2 separate regions of the Homo sapiens genome follow, and region 1 is linked to region 2. The links come from fine-mapping of genetic effects on gene expression. A gene starts in region 2. The other region holds a variant in brackets. All regions are shown on one strand. Distances are between the middles of the regions. Region 1 overlaps PHTF2 (putative homeodomain transcription factor 2). Region 2 holds the start of RSBN1L (round spermatid basic protein 1 like).

Region 1 (2,906 bases), 210 kb before region 2:
TAGAGATGGGGTTTCACCGTGCCATTAACTCTAATTTTAAAAGGGGCAAGTACAAATGCTTACTTAAGAAGTTCAGAGTTTCAGACACAAAGGAGAACATCTTTTAAAACTTTAGGTTTTATATAACCTGTTGCTGGTTATTTATCTGAACTCTTTCAGCCCTGTGATCACCATTCTCTGTAATCCTAGGGCTGGGAGCATACAAATTATATTTTCTGTATATCTTAACAGGAAGTTATTACATACTGTGAAATTCTGACGACAAGGCATTAGAAAAAGGAGGAGGAGCCACTTTCTTCCTCTCTTTTTCCTTCTTTCTTCTGACTGTATCTTTCTAAAAGTGATCATGTCCCTCCCATGGTCTCAGTTCCTGAGACAGTAGCTTTTCCTCCGTAACTCTGGTATCACTTCCCCTTTTTGTTTTCCTCTCAAGTTAAGGTTTAGAAGATATATGGAGAGCCGGGCGTGGTAGCTCCTGCCTGTAATCTCAGCACTTTGGAAGGCTGAGGCCGGCAGAACACGAGGTCAGGAGTTTGAGACCAGCCTGGCCAATATGGAGAAACCCCATCTCTGCTAAAAATACAAAAATTAGCTGGGCTTAGTGGCACACGCCTGTAGTCCCAGCTACTCGGGAGGCTGAGGCAGAAGAACTGCTTGAACCTGGGAGGTGGAGGTTGCAGTGAACCGAGATCATGCTGAGATCATGCACTCCAGCCTGGGCAACAGAGCGAGACTCCGTCTCAAAAAAAAAGAAGATATATAGAGAAAACATTCACTTATTTTATATAATGCTGAGTTATACTTTTTGAGCATTTAATGAAGTCCTACGAACTAGACAGTGCTGCTAGAGATTTCTGCTGGAGATCAACTAAGACAGAATGTTGTTGGGCACAAATATTTCAAAGGCAGGACTTCACGTACTGGGCAAGGGGAACTCTAGGAGTAGGCTGGATGCAATGGCTCACACCTGTAATCCCAGCACTCTGACAGGCTGAGGCGGGTGGACTGCTTTAGCCCAGGAGTTTGACACCAGCCTGGGCAACAAGGCGAAACCCTGCCTCTACAAAAAAATTTCAAAAATTAGCTGGGAATGGCAGTGCATGCCTGTAGTTCCAGCTATGGAGGTAGAGGTAGGAGGAATGATTGAGCCTTGGAGGTTGAGGCTGCAGCGAGCCATGACTGCACCACCGCACTCCAGCCTGAGCAACAGAGAGAAACTGTGGTGGCTGACAACTGTAATCCCAGCACTTTAAGAGGGTGAAGTGGGAGGATTACTTGAGGTCAAGAGTTCAAGACCAGCCTGGGCAACATATTAAGACCCCATCTCTACAAAAATAAAAATAAAAATAATTAGCTGGGCATGGTGGCGTGCTCCTATAGTCCTAGCTAGTTGGGAGGCTGAGGCTGGAGGATTG[T/C]TTGTGCCCGGGAGTTCAAGGCTGCAGTGAACTATGATCGCACCACTGCACTCCAGCCTGAGCAACAAAGCAAAACCCTATGTCTAAAAAACAGAATAGAATAGAATGGAATATTATCTTCCATTTTTAGGACTGTTAATCTTTAAGATTCAGTGGCAATTAGGCAATGCAGAAAAAAAGACAAGACACAGTCTCCGCTCCCTATCCCTTGGTTTAGACCAGGGGTATCCAATCTTTTGGCTTCCCTGGGCCTCACTGCAAGAAGAAATGTCTGGGGCCACACATAAAATACACTAACACTAACGATAGCTGATAAGCTTTAAAAAAATTAAAAAAAATCTCATAAGGTTTTAAGAAAGTTTATGAACCTGGGTTGGGCCACATTCAAAGCCATCCTGGGCTGCATGTGGCCTATGGGCCATGGGTTGGACAAGCTTGGTTTACAGGAAAGAAGAGACATATAAAGAAACAATGAAAATACCTGTTATGAACTAAACTGTGCTCCTTTCATCCTCCCCACACAAATGCATATGCTGAATGAAGCCCTAACCCACAATGTGACTACGTTTGGAGACAGGGCCTATAAGGAGGTAGTAAAGGTTAAACAGATTCGTAAGTGTAAGGCCTTAAACTGATACGACTCTTGTCTTTATATGAAGAGGCAGAGATACCAGAGTACTCTCTCTCTCCACTCACACACACAAGAAAGGCCCTGTGAAGACACAGCAAGAAGGTGGACATCTACAAGTCAGAGAAGCCTCATCAGACACCAACTCTGACATTGCCTCACTCTTGCACTTCCACCCCTCAGAATGGTGAAAAAATAAATTTTGTTGTATAAGCCACCCAATCTGTGGTATTTTGTTATGGTAGCCCAAGGTGACTAATATAACACTTATGATTAACTGCTATAATATACATAAGAAAGATATGTAACTACATTGGGGAGTTACGAAAGGATTCTTCAAGAAAGTGATGTCTGATGTCTAATCTAAATTTGAGAGAACATAGAGGATTGACTAAACAAAAGGGAAAAGGGCTACCCCACGCAAAGGGAGTTGCATGTCCAAAGACACATAGGCAAAAAAGCATGGAATGTTTAAGAAACAGCAAAGAGCTAGTTTAGCCTGGTTAAGGTGGGATAGAAATTCAAGGAGGGATTTGAAAACTCAGATTGCATCTTGAAAGCAATGATAACTAGTGAAGAAATTTAGATCTTAAGCAGCTGGTTTGAATTTGTCATTTAATAGGTAAATGGACAGAAAGTAGAAGATGATATGAGGTTTCCTGGCAGTAATCTTGGCAAGAAACTAGGCAACCAAGACATGCAGAAATGGGGATAGAGCTGAGAATACATAGCTGAGATACTTAAAAAGCATGTAATTGAAATAAAAAAAACTATACATAGTTATATAAAACCAAATCTGACTGCATTTGATTCTTTCTGCCTTTCAAGAAGTGCGAACAAGAATGAGGACATAACTCAGAGCA
Region 2 (2,906 bases):
GGTTTTATCATTTGCTGCAGGGAAAAAAAGAATATGGCTGAAAATTCTTTCAGAAGGGTGGTATTTCAAACAGGACCACCCAAAACACTTAAGAATACGCAGCGGAGAGTAGGGTGCAGGGAGGGTACCTTACGAAACAGCGCACTTCGGGCCCTGCACGCTACCTCATTTCCCTAATAGGGATGAAAAGCTCAGGCCTCTGGTAGCTTCCAGCTGACGCCAGTGCTCTCTCCACACCCCTTTTTTGACAGGATTATCCGGGGTTGAACGCTGTGTCACAAATACGAATTCCCGCGACCACGTCTAAGTGGTCTAACAATCAATCAAGCATCTTTTACAAAACCAAACCCTTCCCCCATCCCGTTCCCTCCATCTCTCTCCCTAGCCAAACAAACCTAGGAGAGTCCTCAAGATGGATTTTCACAAATCCTGCAGCGCACTAACTGGGAGGAAGAAACGATACAGAAAATAAGAGTGTCGGCCATCCCCCTCTCTGCAACCGAAATTACAGGCTCCATTTCCTGTCCCCTTGGGAACTGCAAAATCCTCTGCTGAAAACCGGACGCCTCCCAGCCCCTCCAGGCCGGCGCACGCGGCCGCCGCGCTCCCCCTTCCCGGGCCCCGTGGGCGCCAGGGGGCGGCGGGGACCCACGGCGCCCTCCCCTCCCCCTCCCCGCACGGCACCCACCTCGGGGCAGCGGCTTCACCTCCCCGTTCTCCTCCCGGGAGGCCCCGCCGGCCTCTCGGGCCCCACCGAGACCGTGCCTCCTCCTCTCCTTCTCCCGCTTCTCCTTAGGTCTGCGCGACTTGGCGTTAGCCGAGGCAGCGGCGGCGGCGGCGGGCAGGAGGAGATGGTGAGGCTGAGCGTGCAGCAGCGTAGGAGGGACCAGCAGTTTGCGCGGCACCGGCTGAGACAAGGAAGCGGAGGCTGAGGAGGGAACGGCCGTGCCAGCGGAGAAAGAGAAACTGCTCCGAGAAGAGGACGGGGAGGGAGCAGCAGACAGAGGGGCAAAGCTCCAAGACGCGGGGCTGCCATAGCTCTGAGGCGAAGGTGCTGCCGGCGGCTGCAGCTGCCTGCTGTTCCCGCCGCTGCCCCCTTCTCCGTTCACTCTCCGCGGTGCCTTCTTCTCCTCAGTCCGGACCTTCTTGGCGGACAGAGAACCCGGAGGGTCCCGGGAGGAGAGTTGCAGCTTGCCAAACGGTTCTTTCTCCGAGACGGTGGCGGTGGGGGCCGCGGCAGCGACACAGTGCACGGGGCTCGGCGGTTCCGCCATTTTGCGCTCCTGTTGTATTTACTCTCCTCCGCTAGCCGGCGCGGGGCAGGGGGCGGGCCCTCCGCGAGGGGTAGGGAAGGGGCGGAGCGGCCAGGCCACCAGCCGGCATTGCTCCATTGGGCAAGCCACGCTGAGGGATCCACCTAAGAGCCAATCAAAGGCACAAACATCAGACGAAGGGGCGGGATCGCCACAGGGACCCTCTTCGGAGGTCAGAGCTCGGCGGGGTGCGGCTAGTGGCGGAGCGCGCTGCGAGGGGAGGGCTTTCCACTGTCGCTGGCGTGAACTCGCGTGCCCGGTGGGTATCAGGGAAGAACCCCCGCCCCGGACCCCCAGATCTGCCATGGCCGAGGTAGCGATCGTCTCTGCGGCCACGAAGACTGTTTTAACTTGTACCACTTTCCCTTCCATTTTTCCTGGGGTGCCTCTCACCCTGCATCTGCGCGTTCAGCAAGCTGGATTTCGGGAATGCTCAGTTCAGAAGAGAAAAAATTGCCGGGAATCAAGTCCTTCTTTTTGTTAGTCGGTAGTCGATTGATGGGAAGTGTTCAAAATCATTCGATGTGGTGACAAGGTACGTTATTATTGCTAGATCATGTGCTGTAATCCATTGAAGGAGATAACTTCCAGCAAATCTAGAACTTTAGTATTACTTACAAGCTTGAAGGTGAGAGTCTCCCTTTGGAGACTTTTGAACTGTTGTGACTAGACCCTTAAGATTTTTATTTTATTTATTTATTTATTTATTGGGACGGAGTTTTGCTCTGTTGTCGAGGCTGGAGTGCCGTGGCGCGATCTCGGCTCACCGCAACCTCCGCCTCCCAGATTCAAGCGATTCTCCTGCCTCAGCCTCCCCAGTAACAGGGACTACAGGCGTCCGGCACCATGCTTGGCTAATTTTTGTGTTTATTAGAGACGGGGTTTCACCATGTTGGCCAGGCTGGACTCGAACTCCTGATCTCAGGTGAGCGGCCCACCTCCGCTTCCCAAAGTGCTGGGATTACAGGCGTGAGCCACCATGTGCGGCCTTAAGATTTGAATTTTATAATAATTATTATAGCCGGGCGCGGTGGCTCACACCTGTAATCCCAGCACTTTGGGAGACCGGGGCGGGCGGATCACGAGGTCAGAAGTTCGAGACCAGCCTGACCAACATGGTGAAACCCCGTCTCTACTAAAAATGCAAAAATTAGCTGGGCATGGAAGCGCGCACCTGTAATCCCAGCTACTGGGGAGGCTGGGGCAGGAGAATCGCTTGAACCCAGGAGGCGGAGGTTGCAGTGAGCCGAGACTGCGCCACTGCACTCCAGCTTGGGCGACAGGGCAAGACTCCGTCTCAAAAAATAATAATAATAATAATAATATTATTATTATTATAACGTAGACTTGCCAGGAAAAATTCGTTGGCGATTATTTATGGATGTTTGAAAAGCAAGAATTGTTTTTTTAGGTTTCTGTATTTTAGCGTTTAGTAAGCACACTGCGTGTTCGATGTTTTGTAAGCATGTGCTTTGATTTTTGCTTCGAAAATAAGCAATTTGGGGAGATGGGTTTTAGCTTAAAAGATAAGGAATGTGGCCGGGCGCGGTGGCTCATACCTGTAATCCCAGCACTTTGGGAGGCCAAGGCGGG

Evidence for each region. PIP is the estimated chance that this variant, and not a neighbour inherited with it, causes the effect.
Region 1: its variant is fine-mapped to the expression of RSBN1L in whole blood (TOPMed, PIP above 0.99).

The regions. Positions count from the first base shown.
Region 1 is chr7:77,903,837-77,906,742 of GRCh38, reverse strand. All of the region lies in intron 6 of PHTF2 (putative homeodomain transcription factor 2), which reads right to left. Among named protein-coding and RNA genes, the nearest start is that of DDX3ILA1, 85 kb to the left of the region's middle. The variant T/C (reference allele first, on the strand shown) is at 1,416.
Region 2 is chr7:77,694,838-77,697,743 of GRCh38, reverse strand. RSBN1L (round spermatid basic protein 1 like) reads right to left here and starts at 1,285. Exons shown (of 8, transcript NM_198467.3): 1 at 689-1,285. The coding sequence starts at 1,274. APTR (Alu-mediated CDKN1A/p21 transcriptional regulator) reads left to right here and starts at 1,479. Exons shown (of 2, transcript NR_134254.1): 1 at 1,479-1,848. RefSeq lists silencers at 65-164, 455-774, 1,245-1,464 and enhancers at 985-1,214, 399-1,294, 1,295-2,190.